4 separate regions of the Homo sapiens genome follow, and regions 1, 2 and 4 are each linked to region 3. The links come from fine-mapping of genetic effects on gene expression. A gene starts in region 3. Each other region holds a variant in brackets. All regions are shown on one strand. Distances are from middle to middle. Region 1 overlaps AP3B2 (adaptor related protein complex 3 subunit beta 2). Region 2 overlaps EFL1 (elongation factor like GTPase 1). Region 3 holds the start of EFL1 (elongation factor like GTPase 1). Region 4 overlaps WHAMM (WASP homolog associated with actin, golgi membranes and microtubules).

Evidence for each region. PIP is the estimated chance that this variant, and not a neighbour inherited with it, causes the effect.
Region 1: its variant is the best candidate, but not a certain one, in a credible set for the expression of EFL1 in unexposed skin (GTEx, PIP 0.82).
Region 2: its variant is the best candidate, but not a certain one, in a credible set for the expression of EFL1 in lung (TOPMed, PIP 0.54).
Region 4: its variant is the best candidate, but not a certain one, in a credible set for the expression of EFL1 in rectum (CEDAR, PIP 0.51).

What each region holds. Positions count from the first base shown.
Region 1 is chr15:82,662,930-82,668,717 of GRCh38, forward strand. AP3B2 (adaptor related protein complex 3 subunit beta 2) reads right to left here. Exons shown (of 27, transcript NM_001278512.2): 15 at 3,818-4,004; 16 at 2,528-2,646; 17 at 2,318-2,374; 18 at 1,906-2,014; 19 at 1,438-1,561; 20 at 872-1,046; 21 at 631-691; 22 at 198-304. The region is part of intron 3 of CPEB1-AS1 (CPEB1 antisense RNA 1); the gene reads left to right. Among named protein-coding and RNA genes, the nearest start is that of CPEB1-AS1, 18 kb to the left of the region's middle. RefSeq lists silencers at 248-542, 285-485. The variant C/T (reference allele first, on the strand shown) is at 3,175.
Region 2 is chr15:82,222,143-82,227,930 of GRCh38, forward strand. EFL1 (elongation factor like GTPase 1) reads right to left here. Exons shown (of 20, transcript NM_024580.6): 11 at 5,308-5,430; 12 at 3,023-3,122. Among named protein-coding and RNA genes, the nearest start is that of EFL1, 38 kb to the right of the region's middle. The variant A/T (reference allele first, on the strand shown) is at 2,786.
Region 3 is chr15:82,259,406-82,264,820 of GRCh38, forward strand. It overlaps EFL1 (elongation factor like GTPase 1), which reads right to left and starts at 3,329. Exons shown (of 20, transcript NM_024580.6): 1 at 3,209-3,329; 2 at 2,283-2,392. The coding sequence starts at 2,373. SAXO2 (stabilizer of axonemal microtubules 2) reads left to right here and starts at 3,413. Exons shown (of 4, transcript NM_001348699.2): 1 at 3,413-3,527. The coding sequence starts at 3,475. RefSeq lists a silencer at 1,259-1,445 and enhancers at 3,454-3,543, 3,564-3,633.
Region 4 is chr15:82,817,570-82,823,357 of GRCh38, forward strand. It overlaps WHAMM (WASP homolog associated with actin, golgi membranes and microtubules), which reads left to right. Exons shown (of 10, transcript NM_001080435.3): 4 at 351-520; 5 at 1,754-1,919; 6 at 5,531-5,718. Among named protein-coding and RNA genes, the nearest start is that of WHAMM, 11 kb to the left of the region's middle. The variant G/T (reference allele first, on the strand shown) is at 2,481.

The sequences.
Region 1 (5,788 bases), 400 kb after region 3:
GGAGGGGTAGGGAAGGACAGAACTGAGCAAGATGGAGAGAGCCTGTCCCAGCATTGTCCCCTAGGGCCATCCAGCAGCTGGGACTCAAAGCTATCACATCCTCCATCACACCCACCCCCCACACACATCCACACCATAGGATGCAGCACAGGGATGTGTCCCTGCCCCAGCCCGGTCCCCTCCTCCATCCCACTCACCGACGGTACCAGGGTGGAGTCTGTGAGTGTCAGGCCCTCCAGGTCAGCAGCCAGACTGGTAGACACAATTGCTGGGGGAGACACAGGCTGGACACTGGGAGGGGTGACTGTGGGAGTAGATAAGACTATGAGGAGGCAAAGTGGAGGTGGCTTGGGTTGAGCAGGGAGCCTAGGGATCAAGGAGCACGCATTTCAGCACCATGGACAGCGGGGCACATGGCTGCCTGGAGGCTCTCGCAAAATACCCATTCCTAGACCTCAACCCCAGACCTGGGGAGGTCAGCCCTGCTGCCCTCTCAGGCCTGAAGATATGTTCTGTCTGCTCCCCTGCTCCCACAAGACCTGAGGAACCCGATCCAGAGTCCCTATGGGCTGTTCTAATTCATGCTCCCCAGGCCTCCTTTCCCCTGTGACTTTTACCACCCAAACTCACAATCCTCTAGATCAAGCAGGGAGATCTCCTTGGTTGCAGGAGCACTTTTGCTGCTGGGAGGCTGAAAGAGAAAAATGGGATGTGGGTGTGGGGAAGGGGAGCACCTTGGCATGTTCTGGGTTGGGTAGAAGATGTCATGTTCTGTTCTGGATGGTAGGGAGATAGATGTCTGGGCCTGGCCCAGAGGTTGGGGAGGGCCCTGGCCCATGAGCACACCCTGACTCTGCCCCAAGGCTCTCACTGTTTTCCTGCTCCAGGAGGCAGGTTCTAACTGCTCCTCCTCGGACTCCGATGTCATCTCGGACTCTGATGAGCTACTGCTGGAATCGCTGCCCTCATCAGAGGATGACGCTTCTCCTTTTCTCTCTGGCACCTTCTTCTTTGTCTTCCTCTTACCATCCTCCTCACTCTGTTCACTGAAGGAGTGGGAAAGGTTGGCTCAGGCCTGGCCTGGACACTCCCTCCTTGCTTCACAGAAGCAGGAGAAATGCTGAAAAGCTGGAGTGGTGTGGGGAGCCTGAGCCAGGAGGGTTCACACCTGAGGTCCTATAGCAGGGACCCCGTGAGAGCTTGAAGCCAGCTTGTGCCAGCTCAGGCTCTAGGACTCTGGTTGCTTCTCCACACCAGCCCATGAGGCCTCAGAGATCTCCTGCAGCCAGCGAAAGTAGGCGTCATGTGAGCTGACAGCCCCACCCAGCTCACGAGGGGCTCAGGGGCTCTTAGGAGACTGGCTAAAGCTCAATGCTAGCCCTCTTTCCAGGAAAGCCCCCTGAACCCCACCAGCCATCTGGCTAGCTCCCTTCTCACCTCTCACTGCCTCTCCCTTTCTCCTCATCCTCATCCTGGTCTTCATTGTCGGACTCACTGCTGGACTCCCCAGAGCCGCTCTCACTGCTGCTCTTACTGTCCGATTCACTCTCAGACTCAGGGTCTGTGGAGGAACAATATGAGGCCTCCTCCCTCATATGCAGGCCTCCTTGGGTCTGGAGCAGACACCTGGGTTCCACCTTCACATTCAGTACTGAACCCTCAAACCTCTCTGACCTGCCCCCAGCCCTACATGCCAGCTGGAACTGACAGAAACACAGATGGACTCCATGGATAGAAACCTGCACAAGCACACACACCTGGAACATGAATCCCTCAGGTGCACAAACAATTCACAAGCAGGTGCACACCCCTAGACACACAACCATATACATATACCCCTCATATAGTCAGTCACACAGATGCATGGGCAGAGCACAGAGGACCCCAGCTCTGCCATCTGCTCACCACTGTCTGCGGACTCCGTGGGGCCTGACTCCCCCTCAGAGTCCGAGTAGAAGGGTTTTTCCTTCTCCTTTCTCTTCTCCCGATTTGAGCACTTGGTCCATTCAGGTACCTGGAGATGGGGGTAGGGTGCAGGGTCATTTCATCATGGTTGGGGAGAAGGCAGGCAGGCACAAGCCCTTACCCTTTATTCCACCTCTTTGTGAGGCCCTACCTGGTCTGTCCCACAAAGGGAATAACAGAGGAGGAAGAAAGGGGCACTGTCCATGGAGGGGAGGGAATGCTGCTCACAGAGGAGCACTGCCAAACCAAGGTGGAAACAGAGTATGGGAAGGCCCAGGAGCACAACACACAGGGGAAGAAGAGGGACACAGACAGGGCAGGGGAGAGAGCACACGTCACACGAAGGTGGGACCTCAGTGTATTCGCCCAACAGGCCCACGTGAGTCTCAATAAGGGAGAGATCTTCTTCCTGTGTGTGTGGGGGAGGGTGTTAGGAGGGCTGGGCCGGCACTGCCAGGGCTCCCTACTGTCTGCCCCCACCAACACACACACACACACACACACACACACACACACACACACACACACACACACACACACTTCAACCCTCCACCCCGCTGACCTCCACGTTGCGCACAGATGGGTCTGGGGCTTCCTCCGGCCAGTCTGGGAGCTCCTGGTAGCCTGTGGCCTTGGCATTAAGCAGGTGGGACAGTGAGCCCAGCTGGAAGTGGTCCCGGTCTAGGGATAGGTTTAGAGGTCAGGCAGGTAGCAGCAGTGAGGGAAAGCTCTGGGAGCTGTTTTCCAGGTGGGGCTGGGTGGTGATTCTGGTTGGGACTTCCCAGGTGGGTAGGGGAAGGAGATGGATGTGTGCCCTAATGGCTCTTCCACCCTGACTGCACCTTTAGGCCCACATGCTGGAAGAAAAGGCTGTCTGGCCAGGCCAGAGCAGGGACTGAGGGCCAGGGAAAGGCAGCCTACAGAGGTGGGCAGGAGGAGACTCTGGGCCCACAGATGCTGCCGACCTGTCTGCTCAGCATGCACGTCTAGTCAGGCTCTGGACTCAGCAGGGAGGGATGAACAGTCAGAGCATGAGTGTGTAGAAGTCTGGATCAGAGTTGAGGCACTGCTGGAGGAGGGCAGCACAGGCCTGTGAGTGAGGATGGTGTCGGGGAGAAAGGGACTGTTGCCTTCTTCCTGGGAGAATTTCAAAGCTGTGCCCACCCTCAGAATCTCCCCATTCGTGAGGTCCAGGGAAGAGAAAAAGAA[C/T]GAAAAGATACCCAGAAGAACTGAGCTTTGTGAAGGAGGCTCTCTTCTGTGTAGGTTCCTGGCTTCCACTCCTGGGGCCCGGAGAAGCAGCGGGAGGACCCTTCCCTCCCAGGCCCATCTCAAGGCCGTTGTCTTGGGAAAAGAGGCCTTAAGGGCCAAGCCCAGGAACAGAGGCAAGGCTGAAGCCCTGGGGCCTGGGATTTGGACTGACTGTAGTGACTAAGCTCACAGAATGCAGGCAACTGCTTTCTCAGGACCTTTATAAAAATATACACCTCTCCTTTGTGTGTTGTTTTGCTTTCTGCCTTCCTGGGTCCTTGGTATTTAAGATCTTGGTATGTATTCCAAAGCCTAGTGTCTGCTCAGGGAGGGAGATGGAAAAGGGAGCCTGAGAGGAGAGGAGGCACAAGTCCATCCTGGCCAGGAAGGCAGACCCTCAGGTGAGATGATGCTGGCAGTGGTTATGGGAGGGTGAAAGAGTAATTCCTGGTGCCACAGGAGGGACAAAAGGAGTGAGCCAGGGAGCAGGACTGTCCACAGAAGCCTGGTGCCTGGCTAGGGGCCTCAGGAAGGTCTGGGGCAGAGACTCTGGCCAGTTCCTTTCCATTCCCCTAGGAAGGTTACCCTTGATTTCAGCTCCCACCTTTGAAGGATGACTCCAAGACTGGAGCTGGTTTGGGTGCCAGGAAGAGCTTCTTGGCATGGCGGCTGAGGGCCCCACCCTGCTCGGAAGGGACGATGAGCTGCCGGGTGAAGCGCGCCCGGTCGCGAATATCATAGTTCTGGTCATATTTGGCCAGACTCAGCACATACTGGGTCAGCAGCTTGGTCTGGAGGAACAGGAAGAGGTGGGTCAGCTGACGGGGGGATGGGGACACAGGAGGCTCAGAAACAGATTCTTTAAGCCGACACTTTCAGGCAGAACGTCTCCTCTCCCTGCTTAGGACCGGCGCTTCCACCCAGCTGTCCCTCCCCACCTGCCCTTGTTCTGGGCTCAGAATTTTCTCTCATCTCTCTGGACATGCCTCCTGATGATCCCAACTTTGACAACTGCCTTGGGCCAACAAAAGAGGTTTTCCTTTTGGACTTTCCCCACTCCTGGCTCTGGACTCCATTCTTCCCTAGATTTGTGGTCCCTACCACTCCAGGCCTGTCCAGCCTCTTTACTCTAGGGCAGCAGGGTATGTGGAAGTATGGAATGCTCTGCTGGACCTCACAGTTTCCAGGCTCCACCACCCAGGGGGAATTAGACAACAAAAAGACAGGGCAGATAAACAGGGGTCCCTTTGGCAGGGGCCACCCTCATGCCCTATCCACCCATTTAGTAGATTCTGAGCAGCCCAGGGGTCTCAGAGGTCTTTATCCTTCCCTGGAAGCTTCTAATGACATCAGGGCAAACTGCAGCTGCCCATGCATTTGCCAAGGTCATGTAGGGTTCACAGTCTGCAGTCAGGGAAGCTACAACTGCAGACCTAAAATATCTCCATTTCTGCCATGATCTTGGCCTAATCTAACCTGCCTTAACATGGCAACAGCGGTAGCAGCCATCACTTATCAAGTGCCTTCTGGCACCAACTCTGTGCTAGGTGCTCCACACTAGCTCATCTAATCTCCCCAAGCCTTCTGAGAAGTAGGCATTATTGCCCCCATTTTACAGAAAAGAAGCAGGATCATTAAGGGGCTTTTCCCAGGCCAAGGAGCCCATCAGTACTGCACCTAGGCCTGCATCTGCTGGAGCTGCACCCCATCTGCTTCCCTTCACTGCCTACCTGCTGACATAAGGAGCCTGCCCTGGCCCAGGTCTCCATGTTTCCATCACTTGTGACCAAGATCAAAACCACCAAGTGGTCAACAAGCAGAATGCCCAAGGGCATCAGGGGCCGGCAGGAGGGAGCCTGGAACTGACTCTGTTCTTCCTGAGGTTTATGGTGACATACTGTTACGTGTAGCCTTGGACATGGTTAACCCAGCTAATCTGGCAGGGACATCAAGCAGATGTCCATAAGGGGCAAAGCCCCTCAGATGCTGACCCAGAGTCTGAGCAGCTGCTTTGGCAGAATTGCCCCACACCACTCTAGAGAGCCACTATGATTCCACATTCCTACCTCCAATCTGGCCCACAGGCCCTCTTCAGCTCAGTCCCTTCCAGCAAAGCAGCACCTGCGATACTGTTATAGTCACAGATAAGCAATCCCAATCCCATGCACCGCTAATAGAATAGACTTAAAAATATGAAAATAAGATGCCATCACAACAGATTTCATCACCAACCTGCCCCTCTCTTGGCCAGACACCATCTAAATGGCCAGGGCTAGTGGATGCCCTTACCAACATAGTCAATTATCAAGAGGCTGCTGATCCCTCTTTTGGTTTGGACAATGTCTTCCTCCACAGATTTCCCAGCTGGCTGATCACAGACTCCCTCCTTCAAGTCCTTGCCTAGTTCTAGAAAGAACTGTTTGGTATTTGGATCCATCTGTCCACAGCCTTAACTGCATGTTAACAACCAACACAGGAAGGGGCTGGCCCACCACCTCAACACTGCAGGATTTGCCTATAATAATTCATTACCCTTCTCCACCCCAAGGGGCCATTCCCTGTGGATTGTGGCATC
Region 2 (5,788 bases), 37 kb before region 3:
CAACAGGTTTATCACTATGATCCAGAGACTGTTAATCACTTTACATATATTATAGCACATAATTTATCACAACAATTAAATGAAGTAGATATCGTATTCCTATTCTACATATAAGAAAAGGGAGACTGGAAACTTAAGTAACTCGACCCAAAGTCACACAGATATTAAATGGAGGAGCCATAATTCAAATCCAGATCTGTATGGCTCTGAAGTCTATGCTCATTATCACCAGGTTATGTCTTTCCTTCAAGAGGAATTAAAGATAAAATTGTCATCTTATGTAAATGTGATTTCACTTTAGTTTTAGTGAAAAAAGAAGTGTATTTGTTCACTTGCAGATTAAATCCTCATCTGTCTAAGTTCATGAAGTGATCTGGAATAATCAGCATGTACAGTCATTAAGTAAGCATCAACTGTATAGATGCCTGCTGTCTATCTATGTATCTATCCATCCATCCAGTTAACAACTACTGTGTGCCACACACTGCTGGGCACTGGGAATGATGGTAGCGGGGAACAAAGCAGATAGTAATCAGCAAGGATGTGTAAAAAGTACCCACTGTGTATCCAGCATTTGTTGAGAACAAAGAAATTTAATTACAAGAAAATGGGGCCCTACTAGTGAGGAAACAGTTGTGAGTGTTAAGTTATTTAGGCTATAGTTAAACTAACCATGGATGTTACTTCTTGAAGGGGCAATAGTTACTAATACTGAGATGAAGGAGACCAGAGGTGAGAATGTTGACCGAAGATTCAAATGTCAGGTTGGAAGGTGAATTTGAAGAAGCAAAGAAAAGAGGCAAGAACACAAGAACAGAGGAGAAAGTCCTGTAACAGTCCCACACTTCATTTACAACCACAGTGGCACTGTTGAGCAGTGAGTAAAGGTCAGTGTCTTCACTAAGTTAGGGAAAAAATTTTTTAGGCTTTGTGGGCGCCGAATCCTGTTTCCTGCCTTACTTTTCTCCCTGGCACATATCACTAATACATTGTACTCTATACTAAAGGAAAATAATACTCTGCTATTCCTGGCTTGTATGTCTAATACAATGGAGATGAAAATGCTATCAAACCAACTTCCAATGGTACATTTTCCCAAATTTAAAAAATAAAACTTAAATGAAAAAAAAAAATCAGCTAGAAGATGGAAAAGAACAAAGTAATGGTGATGACCTTGCCCAGGTATACCTGAAAACACTATATTATTATGTAACAATTGTTGAACCTGATATACTGGTTAAAAAACAATGACAAAAATAAAATCAGTAAAAAAACTTCATGGAATAGAATGGATTGCACTATCAGAAATATACTAAAATCAGAAAAGCATATGATGAATTATTAGGAAAAACATTCACAGAAAATGTAATTAACAGTAGAGGCATAATAATACTATTATTCATCAGCAAGAAATGAAGGATGGGTAGAGCTAGGAATTTTAAATGCTATAAATACATGTATTTCAAATCTTAACAGCAAGTTTTCCAATTCTCTGATATTCCCTATGATTCTACCAGAATCTCTCAGATACTCCCAATGGCCAAAAAACATCCAATATCCTACATTTGTTACTACAAGAAATTGTTACTACATGTAGCACTGAAATATTATCTGGGAGTAGCCTAGATACATAATTAGACATTCATTCATTCCATTATTCACTCACTTACTTACTCAGTTAGCCACTCATTCACCCATTCACTGACCTGTTATTCCCCCATTTGGATATTCACTCATTCATTCTTCATTTACTCACCCATCTATTCCTTTACTTATCCCCAGGACAAAAATTATTGAATACACTTAATGTCCAAATCACTAGGGAAGTACTAAAAAACAAAGCATAACCTTTCCCCTGAAGGACAAACAGAATTTTATCAGAGGAAAAGAAGCCTTCTCAGATGGAGGAACAGCACAAGTACAGATAGGACATTTGTTCAGACACTAGTATATTAGAGAAACAGAAATAAAAATCTAGTCGAAACATGGTTTGGGGTCAGGTCATGGTGGGTCAGAAATGCCACTAAGACAGGTCAAGTTTATTTCACGGGCTGATGATCTGACCTTCAGTCACTCACATATCATTTTCATGATTTCTGCTATATCTGCATATTATTATTTAATACTTATTTAAATGCACAAACATTTTTAACTCAATAAAACTTTAAAATCTCATCATGGTAAAGGCTTTATCACTTGACATACACAGGCAATACACACAAATACACATTAAAATAAATATGACAACTAATTATATTAAAACTTGTTTCCCTAAGTACCACTGAAATCATCGCCAACACTTTACACTTGAATCAAAACTGCTCAAGACAGTGAGGATCATTAAGGGTTTTTGAGCAAGAGACATATCTTCATAGCTGAGTCTTATAAAGATCACTCTAAAGAAAGAATGGCAAGTGGATCAGTGGAACTAAAGATGGGGCAGGAGAACCAGCTAGGAGGTTGCTGCAACAATATCCACAAGAGATGATCAGAATCTAAACTAGTGGGGAAAGCAGCAGAGACAGAAGGAGGGGAACACACATAAAAAACAGGAAATGTAGAAGACACAGATTCCCCAAGACTCTGGAACTTGAGGAATATCCCTCTCCTACACCTATCACACCTGTGCACACATAATACACACAGGGAAGCAGAGATCCTCATACATTCATAATCTCTACTGAGGTAGGCAGAATTAGATGAGACAAGGCAGACTTAGATTAGAACTTGCCTGACATGTTTAATAAAAGTTAATTGTTGCTACTACTGCTAACATACTCTTCAA[A/T]CTTACATCACTTCAATTCAATATTCCAGAGCTGATTTCAACAACTTTCTCCTACAGAGGTATCACAAAAGGATATACTACTGTATAAATTGTATGTTACCCTGGGGGTTGGCTTGATATGAATTCTGGGTTGAGGAGGAAAAGCATTATCCGTGCCCCCCCTACCCACAGCCCAACTGCATCCCACCAAACATACACCATATTCCTAGCCCAGCCCAACTTTCCCCTTTCCCTTACCTTGGCTTATTCTGAGGCAAGGCCTTAGCATCAACTGCAAACATTTTGGAAACAAATATAATAACTGGAGCAGTGTCCTCACTTCCACATTTCATAAAAGCTAAACAAATAGGAAGTAAAAATGTCACTATTTTTCCCATTATTAAAAAAAAAAAACAGATTTTTCTGGAAAACAATTAAAATGTTTAGAACATGGATGGCATCATCAAAATACACCAGAAGTCCATAACTTTTTCCAACTATGATAAAAATTTTAATTAGAAAAGGGTAAGATTGCTAGGAAAGAATAGCAGAGCAAGAGCAAACAGTTGGCAGAAATAAGAAAAGAAAAGCAAGCAAATTTGACAGGGTGAGGGATCTCATATGAAAGCTAAAGCTATGCAATGAGGTTAACCACCTACCATAAGCACTAATACATTTTTCACTGTATCAAGTATAGAAAATAGAATTGAGGAATGTTACCAAAGGCCAACAATCAACAAGGTAGCTTGTTAATAAGATACATAAAAATCAATAGCTTTCCCAATCCCCCACAATAACAAGTTAGAAAATAAAATGGACAAAAATACTGTATTATGATATTAACAAATTCTTAGAAATAAATTAAGATTCAATACTATTAAGATACCAATTCTCCCTAAATACACAAATTTTAATGCAATTTCATATTAACATATGAACATTTTCCTTAACCTATACTGGAGGTAAAAAAACATTGATTAATGAATTTTTTTAAAACAATTCCATCACCTCACGTTAAAATAATTTATATATAAAGAATTCAACAGTAAAATACAAACAAGAAAAAAGAAAACCACAGGAAGTAAGAATCAAACATGTATCAGAAGTCTTGCCAGTGGAAGCTTTGAATGAGGAACAGAATGACATGCCCTGATTTATATCTTAAGAGGATCACTCTGTTTTGTCTGCAATAGTTGAGAAAACACTAACAGGAATCAAGAGCAGAAGCAGGGATACTAGTTGTTTCATTGTTGTTGTTGTTGTTTGTTTGTTTGTTTTTTCAGATGGAGTCTTGTTCCGTCGCCCAGGCTGGAGTGCAGTGGCGTTATCTCGGCTCACTGCAACCTCCGCCTCCCAGGTTCAAGCGATCCTCCTGCCTCAGCCTCCCGAGTAGCAGGGACTACAAGCGTGTACCACCACGCCCAGTTAGTTTTTGTATTTTTAGTAGAGACGGAGTTTCACCATGTTGGCCAGGAAGTGAAAACATTGGGAAATAGTTGAATTCTGTATTTCAAAGGAAGAATAAACAGGATTTGCTGATGGACTGGATGTTGGAGTGTGAGATAAATATAAGGGCCATAGATGACTCCAAGGTTTTTGGACTGAGTAAATGAAAAGATTGAGGTCTCCCTAACTGAGATGGGAATGACTAGGTGAGCAGGCTTGGGGATAAGATAAAAAGTCCAGTTGGGGATATGTTCAGTTGAGATGCTTCTTAGACAACACAGTGTAGAGGGAGTTCTAGATATCAGTCCAGAGTCCAGAAAACAGACATGCTCTGAAGACACATAATCGTGGGAATTATGAGTATGTAGCTGTCATTTAAAGTCTTGAGATTGGGTACAATTATCAAAAGAGGGACTACAGATAAAACAGATGAGGATCAAAGACTTGAACCTTGCTTGAGGCACCCCAAAGTTAAAAAGCCAGGGAGATGGGGAGGAATCACAAAAAGAGATATTAAGGATAAGCAGCCAGGGAGACACGAAGAAAAGCAGAAGCAAGGGAATGAAAGCAATGGAAGCCTAAAAGTCAAGGGACGAAAGTGTTTCAAGGAGGAGTGATCAATTGCGTCAAATGCTAGTGACAGATCTAGTCCTGTGAAGACTGAAAACTGGCCATTAGATTTAATGAACCGAAAGTCAATAGTGATGCCAAGAATAACAGTGTAGTGGTTTGGGGGCAGGGTTACAAAACCAATAGAACTGGAGGAAAAGAATTAGAGATAAGAAAATACGTGGAGACAAATTTCATGGAACCTACAAAGCCCAGAATGGGAGCTTCTTTTCTCACGAGGAGCATGTGTACAAGTCGCTGGTCTCACCCTACTGCCTGAGCAAAATGGCTGTAACAAGAAAACCTTTGGGGTGAGGGTGGGAGGCAAAACTGGTGAAATGGTCATTTGTGAAACTGTTCATCTGTGGAAGTGGACATTTGGCAAATTGGCCATTTAGCAAACTAGCGTTCAGCAAACTGGTCTAGAGCAGCCTGGATGGAGGACAGTCAATGACATGGTATATTCCAACAGGTCCATCTTTCCTCACCTGCTTTCAGTGCTTGAGTTTCTGGTGGAAAAGAGTCAAAAGTTTGTGATCCTGTGCACATCAGTCTCTCCACTCTCTCAGCTGTAATATCAAGGGGACTAGGAAGTTTCTGACACACCATAGCTGAAGTCTATTGTTAAGGACTGAAAACCTTGAGCCAGTGCCTCCCACCAAGGCGAAGATTCACTGTATGCACTAAATATTGAGGTAACAAAGTCTGTCCATACAGAAAATGCCTGTGCTACAAGGCAACACTGCTTTATGCATCACATCTCAAAACATGCATACAATTTCAGGGAGTTCACAAACTCCTTAAAGCTCAGAAAGGATCCTCATGACAGATACTTTAACACTGAGGCCCATGAAACAAATGAGAACAGAGCTTAGCAGGTTGGCTACAGGTGACCTTGAAATGAAACAGTTATCTAACACAAACATCTAAATCATCTACTTATATTTGAATCTTAGTGTAAACATTTTT
Region 3 (5,415 bases):
TTGTCAAGTAACTTTAGAGAACATACTCTTTTGCCATATTTCCCCATGCATGGCCTCAGCTGGAATTTGCTAAACTGTCTTAAGAAAATACTTACTTATCAAAGAAATTCAGGAACATTATCCATATCTCTTACTGTTTGTAATATAGCATGTGGAGGGCATAAACATACTGTAACAACCAATGAAACCTAGTATCCAAATCTAAACCTAGGAATCTACTTTAAAGCAAAAGAATCTTCGAATATATTTATAGTTACTTTTATTAAGCAGACTACATACAACTAAAGTCTATGAGATTTTATGTGATATAAACAGGTGATTCTGTGTAAAGAATGTCAGGGGTATGCATAATTACTACAACTGGGTTGGAGTAAGCAAAGGAGGGTTTTTTTCCTTCAAGACAAGTCTTTATTGCACTTTAGGAACTTCAGCAAAGCTATGGAATCTCTGTATTGTTCAAACCAGAGACCAATGAGTAGGAGAACTGAAGATATTTAACACTGCTATCTGTCTGCAATGTAAATATGTATTAGCATATAATCCTAGAGCATCACTTTCCTGCTACCCAGTAAAGCTGAATTTATTCTAAGTACACCAAGTATATACCTCCCTAGAAAATAATTATCAAGCAAGCAGGAACTTTGCTTTATTCACAGCAGTATCCCTAGGACCAGAACAACGCTTGTCATATAGAAGACCTTCAGAAAATACTTGTTGAATGGATGAATCCCAGGTTTTTTAGGATAGTAGCAGCTTAACATAATTTTAAACAATACATTTAAAGTAATTTGTTACACCCCACTAACTTTCCACTTGAATAAATTCATAAAGAAAAAAAAAACCCTTTTATCAGCCTTCACATTCTCAAAATGTGAGCAGTAAAATTATAAAAACTCATGGAGGCAGGGGTTACTCACTGGATTTGTACTAAAACTCATTCACAGCTGGCTTCACTTGTAAGTGATCCACTATCTGTCTTTCTGTCAGTTTCCATACTCACATTACTTCAGCTCTTCTATCAATGACAACAGCCACCTAATCTCTGACTTTGGATCCATCCTAAGCATGTCTACCAATCTAATCTTTCTCATGTTTTATTTGATTACATCATTCCTGCTCCATGTTTTCCCCCAAAGGCTCCCTACTGCCTAATAGTAGACATTAATGATCGTTTTCATGGTGAAGCGTTTACCTTCCCTCTCATTATTATCACATTTAATCCTATAGCCTATAAAGCAGGTATAGTTTTCATCCTGTTTTACAGATGCTGTATATTGAAGCTCAAAAAGGCAAGGTATGTAACTTGAAAATGGAGATCTGAACTTAGGTTGTCTAACTCCAGAGCTGGAGCACTCAACTCTTATCCCAGTTCCTAGCTGGCATGAGCAGCTCTATGAGATATGACTCAGCCTGCTTCTTCACCTCGCCAACTGGTCCTTCATCTTCAGGATGGTAAATATGTTTTATTTCATATGCCCATCCCAATCACTTTGCTGTGGTTACCTAAACTACCAAGAGGTTTGAAATCAAGAGGAGGCTTAGCATGAAGGAGCGCTATGGAGTTACAGCAGTATCTGTCAGAAGAACATACCATGGGTTAGCTATCTCTGCCTTTCCCATATACTGGGCTTTGACCACATATATTTCCCTCTCCCCTTGATGACACATTCCCACCTGTAATGATTATCTCCATTTGTCATCTTGAGCCCCCTTCAAGTGTCATCTCTAATACTAATTATGTTGTGAGGTCTTTTCCTAACCCCTCACTTCCTAATCCTCTAGTTCTCCCAACCTTAGAGTCTACTTTTTTCTCTTGTTTGTCTCATTTTGCTCTGCTCCCCGTTAAAACCTCCCCTGGGCTAGTGCCCTACTCATAAATCTCCACCTTCAGACATACTAAGCAAAATATCTTGAACTTAACAGACGTTTGATAAATATCTGATGAATTAAATAGGATCACATACCACAGACTCTAAGGACATTATGTCAAGACTACAGACATTTTATATGTAAAGCCATTTCAAAAACAAAAAATTCAAGTTCTGCTTTAAAAAACAACATGACATAATATATAGAAGAATGCTACTCACTAGGTAACCGTGTTCATTTCAAATGCTTTATAGCAAAGCAGGCTTCCCTAACATCACACAAAACTTTTAAAGAAAGAAGACTTGCTTCTTAGCAAACATCACTCTCAGCTGTCCACAGCTTCACTCCACTGAGACATACAGAGACACATCTCCCTTATTTATCAAAATAAGCCATTTAAAAAGTATTCTTACCATGGTCAACATGAGCCAAAACACAAATATTCCTGATGTTGGCAGTGTTTTTCTGGAGTTGAATCATCTTATCCAAACTGTTGAGCACCATGATTACTTATTTCCTGTGACTAAAAATTAAATATGTATTACAAATGGCCCAGAGGCTAAAGGTCGGGGCAAAAGAAAAAAATAATAATAAACGCTGGGAGGTGGCAAGCTTCTCAAACCCCTTAAACCAAGAACCCAGTGAATGTTTATTGATGAGATAGACCACCAAGGCCTAAGTCCAGTTCGAGCACTAAAGTCAGTATCCTACCACGATTACACTTAAGGAGTTTGCTCATCCTTCCGGATCCAAAGGCTGCGATGAATCACGCAGCTCGAGGGGACTGGGTGCACAGTGACACCAGTAACCCTGCCGGTGGAGGAGTACTCCAGTAAACATCTCCAGGCCAATGACCACGTACAGGAAGGGTTGCATCCAGGAGGGAGAGAAAATGCTGAAGAAGATGCTCCCTTTCTCTCTTCAGTCTTCCCCCAAGTCCCTCATTCTGACATTCTCGCTCGTCCTCGCGCGAGGTCAAATACCCAGCTTTATTCCTGCCCATGGAGCCCGAACAAAGTTTTGGGTCACGTGCTTATTATCCAAGCAGGTGCACTGCCGGTCTTTCATTCCTTTCTAAATAAAAAGGAAAAACCTCTACACTACATGCCCTTCATTTCTGCAGGGTCCCAGATTCGTTCTCTTTGAGGATCCTGGGTCCACACAGACAGGCGACCGCCCCGGCCCCAGACGGGAAGCGGCACTCCGGGGACCGAAGCTCCCAGCCCGCGCTCGGCCCCAGCCCCTGTTCCCGCCTCAGAGCCGCAGCGAGCGGGTTCCTCCGGCACCGCCCAAAGGCTGGCCTAGGAGGTTCCAGCCCCCAGCGCCAGCCCACACTCACCGGCTGCAGCAGCCCCACCAGCCCCGCTCCTTCTCTCGGGTCGCACCCACACCGAGAGCTTCCGAAAGTCCGAGAGCTCTGCGGGTCCGACACGCCCGCGCGCCAGGGGGCGGGGCCGGCTGTCGCTCGACCTTTCACCCGCACGTCTCTGACGCCGCCGGAAGCCGGCGCCGAGTCTGTCACCGGGCATCCCTCTGTTGCCTTGACTACGGCGGGCGCTGTGGGAGTGGAGAAGCTGCAAGTGCTGAGGCGCGGTGGAGGAAAGCATGGGAGCCAAGAGTATGAGGAGCTGGTGTCTGTGTCAGATTTGTAGCTGCGGGTAAGAAACGGCTGGTGTAGCGGCGGGCCCGGGCTTGGGAGCCGACCTAGGGCCTAGGTGCACGGAGCCGGCTCCTCGGGAACCCTGAGAGTGGCCGTCCCCCGGAGATGAAGGGACGAGGGCGCAGCGACATCCCCACTTATCCCGCTCCGCGAATACTCGCTCCTCACCCGCCTGCTACCCGGGGGTAAAACGTTTGTTCGTAGCCCCTGAGACTCCCAATCAAGGATGCAAAGTAAAATGCCACCCGGGCCAGGTAAGTAATATATGTGAAGCCGCGACGGGATATAACGCTGGTGAGTAGTGGGATGTGATCCGACTGGGAGAGTGCATTTCCACCCCATAATCCCCCACCACGAAGATGAGAAAGAACAGTGCTCAAGGCCCTGAGTCTGCAACCCATATCACATTTTCTTTCATCTGTAGCTTTCTGTCCTCCCAGCCAGACCATATTCCCATTCCCGTCCAGGCAGCAGTTCTTTGGGATCCGCCTGACTGAAAAGTCAGTAAGTAGTCCCTACCCTGAAATCTAGAATCCAACTGTGAGTCCTGCCTAACAACCTTCCATCACCTGTAAACACAGTCCTCTCCTTCCTCAGCTTCACTATTGACCCAGGGATTAGATCATTATTTGCTAAGTAAATATGAACGTTGTCAATCCCTGGTGTATTTGTAATCCCATTCAAAGAAAACACCTACATGTTGATGGAAAGCAGTTTTTTTAATAGTCTCATAATAAACACAGTTCATAATTATATATAGATTAAAATATCAACAAATTAACTTTGGGTGTATGAATCCTCAGACTGGTGTGCAGGAGAAAATTTTTACTTTTCTCCTAATTTATATTCAACGCAAGTTCCTTTCTCATTCAACTGTAAGGAAATTCAGTCTTCATTATGTTGAGGGCCACCATTGGAATGGCGTGATTTTACTTCTTGTTTGTTTGTTTTGGGCTGTGGTTGTTAGTTTTGTCTTTTTAAGGGTTTATTTTTATTTTTTGACAATGCAATAAATACACAAGAAGTATCATAAAAATCTAAGCAAAAATATCTATAATATTGTAAAACGCCTTCATAATTCTATCTTCCACAGATAACAAATGTTCTTTAAGACTTGTTTTACATATGCATTGATTTTTTTTTTTTTTTTTTTTTGAGACAGAGTCTGGCTCTCTTGCCAGGCTGGAGTGCAGTGGCGCAATCTCGGCTCACTGCAATCTCCGCCTCCCGGGTTCAAGCAATTCTCCTGCCTCAGCCTCTCTGAGTAGCTGGGATTACAGGCTCGTGCGACCACACCCAGCTAATTTTTGTATTTTTAGTAGAGACGGGGTTTCACCATGTTGGCCTCCATCTCCTGACCTCATGATCTGCCTGCCTCGGCTTCCCAAAGTGCTGGGATTACAGGCGTGAGCCACTGCGCCTGGCCTGCATTGATTTTTTTTTTTTTTTAACAAAAAAAGAGAATATTCTGAGCATACTATTCTACAATCCGGTTTTTTACTATTTACAATCTCACCAACTTCCAATGATCATGCATAAAGACCACCCTCATTCTCTTAAATAACTGTATACTATTAGCTTATATGATATATTGGTCAAGGTTCTTAGTTGTGGATAACGTAATCTCCTCTGGTTAGTCTAGGCAAAAAGGAATTTATTAAGGAGTATATATATAGTTCACTTGGAAGAACTTAAGAAATCATTTTCAAAATAAGCTTCCACAAAAATTTTACCACAGACCAGGACTGACAAGGGAGCCACTGCCTCTGCCATAATCAGAAAATTGCAACAGAGCTGTAGACTCCAGAATCACTCGTCTCTTCCAAGGTCAAGAAGCTGCCAAGTTAGGAAACCAGCTTGCAAATCAAGATGCCGCCTAACAACTT
Region 4 (5,788 bases), 560 kb after region 3:
AACAAGATAGAAAGCAGAATGATGATCCTGGTTTTGTGGTCAAACTATCCATATGAGCCTGTCTGTCTAGCTAGACATAGAAACAATATGGAAGCAAGTGTGCCAAAATATAAGAAGCAGTTGCCTCAACTAGGTGAGATCATGACTTACTGTCTTTTTAAAAATGGAATACCTAAAATTTTATATCAATGAACATGTATTATTTTTATCATAATAAAAAAGTTAATAAAATTTCTTTTAAAAAGGATATTCTGCAGGTAGTATGGAGGCAATAAAAAAAGGATTAGCTCATGATAAATGTTTCCCTTTTTAATGAGGTGTAATTATATTTTATTTTTATAATCCAACAGGAATGCAGAAAGAAATGGAACAGGATGCGAAGAGATTTGGTCAGGCTGCCTGGGCCACAGCAATTCCCAGGTTGGAAAAACTTCAGCTAATGCTAGCTCGAGAGACTCTGCAACTCATGAGAGCGAAAGAGTTGTGTTTAAATCACAAAAGAGCTGAAATTCAGGGAAAGGTAAGACAAAGATAAACATAACTTTGTTTTAAAAATACACTTTTATTTTTAAAACATTTTGTATAAATAAAGGATACAAGTGCAGTTTTTGTTCCATGGATATATTGTGTAGTGGTGAAGTTTGGGCTTTTAGTGTAATCATCACCTGTATAATGTAATTGTACCTATTAAATATTTCTCATCCCCCCTCCCACCCTCTTACTCTTCTGAGTCTCCAGTGTGTATTATTCCACACTGTGTATACACATTACTTAGCTCCCACTTATAAGTGAGACCATGTGGTAAAGCACACTTTTATTTTTAGATAGCACTTTTCTTTCCAGGCATCGTTAAAGAGCTTCTTTTCTTCGCTTATTCCAACACCATCTTCTGTGGAAGGTTAGACATAAAGTTTTCCTTTGGTTAAGATGTTTCAAAATACCATATTGTAGGTTTCACTTTATAGTAATACCAAGCTCAGTATTGAAATGGGTACTGTACTTGAAAATCAACCCAGCAATGTTTTCACTACAACTTTAAAATAATCAAAGAGATACTTCACTGCATAGTCACTTAAATTTTTTCCTATAATCTTATGACTTTAAAGCAGAAAACACTGTAAACACCTGTCTTAGTTGGCTCAGGCTTCTATAACAAGATTAAATATCACAGATTGGGTGGCTTAAACAACGGACATGTATTTCTCACAGTTCTGGAGGCTGGAAAGTCCAAGATCAAGGTGCCTGCAGATTCACTGTCCGGTGAGGATCCTCTTCCTGTCTGGTAGACAGCTGCCTTCTTAACTGAGTGCTCATATAGCCTTTCTTCTGTGTGTATGTTTAGAAAGAAAGTGATCCCTCTCTTTCTCTTCTAATAAAGGCACTAATCCCATGATGGGGGTGCTATCCTTTTGACATAATCTGAACTTAATTACTTCCAAAGGACCCACCTCCAAATAACATCACACTGGGAGTTAGAGTGTCAACATACGAATTTTTGGGGGGACACCAATATGCAGTACATAATAATACCTCATTGCCATTTATGTTTCTCAGAACCTAAATGTTTTCCTCTGTTTCAAGGATGAGATAAAGTATTTGCATCACTAGATGAAATGAAAAAGTGTTTCTTTCCTATTTGCTTTGTTATATTTAGTACTGAACAAGGAATAGAAAATAGCTAGAATGCTTCTAAAGTTTGTTTTTAATATACTAATTTATTTTAACTTATTTTTCTTTTTTCTATGAAAATAAGATGGAAGATCTTCCAGAACAAGAAAAAAATACAAATGTTGTAGATGAATTAGAAATACAATTTTATGAAATTCAATTAGAACTATATGAAGTTAAATTTGAGATATTAAAAAACGAAGAAATACTGCTTACTACACAGTTGGACTCTCTTAAAAGACTTATAAAAGGTAAAATTTAAGTATATAGATTGCAATGTTTAAATTATAAATTTAAGGAAATACAGACCATATTATCAATTACTTTTTGTAAATTATAACATCTGAAAATTTCCTAAAGTTTTCCTTCAGTGGTTTATTATTCAAATAATATATTCATTGTTAACACATAGCAAAACAAAGAAAGAAAAATGATTATTACCCCAATCCCATCATCTAGAGATGCTTAGTGGTTGGCTGGGCACAGTGGCTCACGCCTATAATCCCAGCACTGTGGGAGGCCGAGGCGGGCAGATCACTTGAGATTAGGAGTTCCAGACCAGTCTGGCCAACATGGTGAAACCCCATCTCTACTAAAAATACAAAAATACTAAACCCTGTCTCTACTAAAAACACAAAGTCCAGTGTGGTGGCACGTGCCTGTAATCCCAGCTGCTTGGGAGGCTGAGGCAGGAGAATGGCTTGAACCTGGGAGGTGGAAGTTTCAGTGAGCCAAGATCGTGCCACTCCACTCTAGCCTGGACAACAGGGCGAGACTCCATCTTGAAAAGGAAAAAAAAAAAAAGATACTTC[G/T]TGGTAACAATTTGCTGTATAACTTTGTAGATTTTAAAATATGCTGATATATAAAAATATAAATTTTTAACCAAAATATATAACCAGTTCAGTAACATCTTTTTAAACAATTTTTAATTTTTATGGGTGCATAGTAGATATATATTTTTATGGGTTACATGAGATATTTTGACATAGGCATATAATGCATAATAGTCTCTTTTTCATTTAATACATAACTGTCTTTCTATTTCAGTGAATAATAAAAGTATCAAAATTTTAATGGCTGCATAGTATTCCATTATATGGATATACCATGATTTCCAAATTTCAGGTGTTTTGAACAGTAGTGTAGTGAACTTTACACATGTCTTTGAGTATAGGACAGATTATTTCCTTGGAATAAATTTCTAAGGATGGAATTATTGGGTCAAGGGCAATGTATATTTTACATTTTGATACATAACAGTACAATAATCATCTGAGATACATTTTTCCTCACCTCCATATTATTTTCTGATTTCTAAATTTCATGCTACATAATGACCCTCTAGATAGGTTGTACATTTAAAATGATGCTCCCAGGCTGGGTGTGGTGGCTCACACCTGTAATTTCAGCACTTTGGGAGGCTGAGTGGGGCAGATCACTTGAGGTCAGGAGTTCAAGACCAGCTTGGCCGACATGTTGAAACCCTGTCTCTACTAAAAATACAAAAATTAGCTGGGCATGATGGTAGGCGCCTGTAATCCCAGCTACCTGTGAGGCTGAGGCAGGAGAATCGCTTGAACCTGGGAGGTGGAGATTGCAGTGAGCCGAGATGGTGCCACTGCACTCCAGCCTGGGCGGCAGAGTGTAAGACTCTGTCTCAAAAAAAAAAAAAAAAAAAAAAAAGAAAAAAGATGCTCCCATCAGCAGAATATGAGTGTGTATGTTTCCCAGACTCATGCCATTCTTTTGCATTTTTGCTTACTTGACAGAGAAAATGGCAGTCTTCCAATTTTCATTTATTTAATTATGAGTGAATATTGAACAAAATTTTGTATGTTTACGAGCCATTTGTACTTATTTTATGAAATGCCTATTCATAGTCTTTGTCCATTTTTCTTTGGAATATTTCCTTTCCACATTAAAAATAATATCCTCTATTGTCTGTCATATGTTGCAAATAATCTCTCCTTGTCATTTGTGTTTTCTTGCCTTTCAGAAATATTTAATTTTTATGAAGTCACGTTTATCAATTTTTTTCCCCATGGCTTCTGCTTTTAGTATTATGTCTGGCAATATTCTCCAATCCCAAAATTATGTCAATATATGCTTATGTTTTCTTTTCGTATGTTTATGATGTTGCTTTTTAAAACATTTAATTCTTTAGTCCAGGTGGAATTTATTTTGATTGTCGTAGGAATTGAACCTTTCCCTCAAATTGTTAAGCAGTCCCAATCACTGATTTTAAAAACATTTTCCCTAAATGTTTAACATTTCTCAAGTTAAACATTAGATTGACTTTGGTCTGTTTCTGTGTTGTTCTCCTCCATTGGTTTGTGAGTGGCTTCTGCTGCTGGCTCCATACCGTTCCCATGACTGTACCTTGGAAGCACATTTTAGGGTCTGGTAAGGCAAGTACCTCCCCCATTACTTCTCCACAAGTTTTCTGACTATTTTCACTCCTTTATTCTTCCAGATGAAATTTAGAATCAAGTTCAAAACAAAAACTCGTTGGAATTTTGATTGTGATTTTGCTTAAAATTAGAGATTACTTTGGGGAGAATAGTGGTCTTTGCAATTTTGAATCTTCCTACCCAAGAACATGGTATGTCTCTCTCCATTTATTTAAATCTTTTTTCCTAAAGTTCCTCCAAGTTTAATAAATTTCTTCACATAGATCCTGAACTTTTAGTTTAATCCTGAGTATTCAGAATTTTTTGCAGTAGTTTCAGGTTATAAGCATTTTACATATTTAGGAAAAAAATTACATTAAAAAAAGAAGTTAATCTGGAAGGATGCATGCCAGATTGTTCATAATGTTTTTCCTCTGAGAATGACTCAGAAGGTTTGGGGAAGGAGCAAGACAATTTCACTGTTTTATGTACTTCTGGAGGGTTTGAATTTGTTACAGTAAGCATGGCTTTAAAAAAAATCAATATGTAATCAAGATTATATATGACTAAGACATCTTAATAATATATTGCTGGTAGAATATAAGTTGCCTTTCTGGAGGGCAATTTGTCAATGGGTATCAAGATCCTTAAATATTTATCTGCTAAGGAAGTGATAAAAAGTGTACACAAAGATTTATACAGGGATGTTCATCACAGTGAAATGAATAATAGTGGAACATTGGAACAGCCTAACAACATGGACTGCTTAAATTAGAGAATACTATGCTGCCATTAAAATTTATCTTTTTAAATTTTTTTTTATTTTTGGAGATGGAGTCTTGCTCTGTTGCCCAGGCTGGAGTGCAGTGGCACGATCTTGGCTCACTGCAACCTCTGCCTCCCAGGTTCATGCTGTTCTCCTGCCTCAGCCTGCCAGGTAGCTCGGATTATAGGCATGCGCCACTGTGCCTAACTAATTTTTGTATTTTTAGTAGAGACGGGGTTTTGCCGTGTTGGCCAGGCTGGTCTTGAACTCCTGACCTCAGGTGTTCCGCCTGCCTTGGCCTCCCAAAGTGCTGGGATTACAGGCGTGAGCCCCTGCGCCTGGCCTAAAAATGTATTTCCATCCCATGGAAAATGTTCTTTTAGAACTCCATTGATATGTGTAGCTATGTAAGTAGTATGTGTGTGTGTGTGTATATATATATATACACACATATGTCTATATACATGTATGTATACATGCATACACTACATGGATATACACACATGCTACTTACATACATGTATATAGTCATGTATATACACATGTGTGCATGTATATTACATATACACATATTTTTCATATATGTTAATAGTGCTTCTCAGTGGTGGGATTACAAGTGATCTTTATTTTTCTTACATTTAAAAAAATTCAATGCATTTTTTAAAATAATAAAATATGTTTTAAACAATCATTAATACATTTTTAGAAAAACAAGATGAAGTTGTCTATTACGATCCATGTGAAAATCCAGAGGAACTTAAAGTCATTGACTGTGTGGTGGGGCTGCAGGATGATAAGAATTTGGAAGTGAAAGAACTCAGAAGGCAGTGCCAGCAGCTGGAGTCTAAACGGGGCAGGATCTGTGCCAAAAGAGCCTCTCTCCGGAGTAGAAAGGTAGGTACGCTCAGAGCGGCTTTCTTTTCTTTTCTCTTTCAGAGATTTATTCTTGTATGAAGGATAAAGG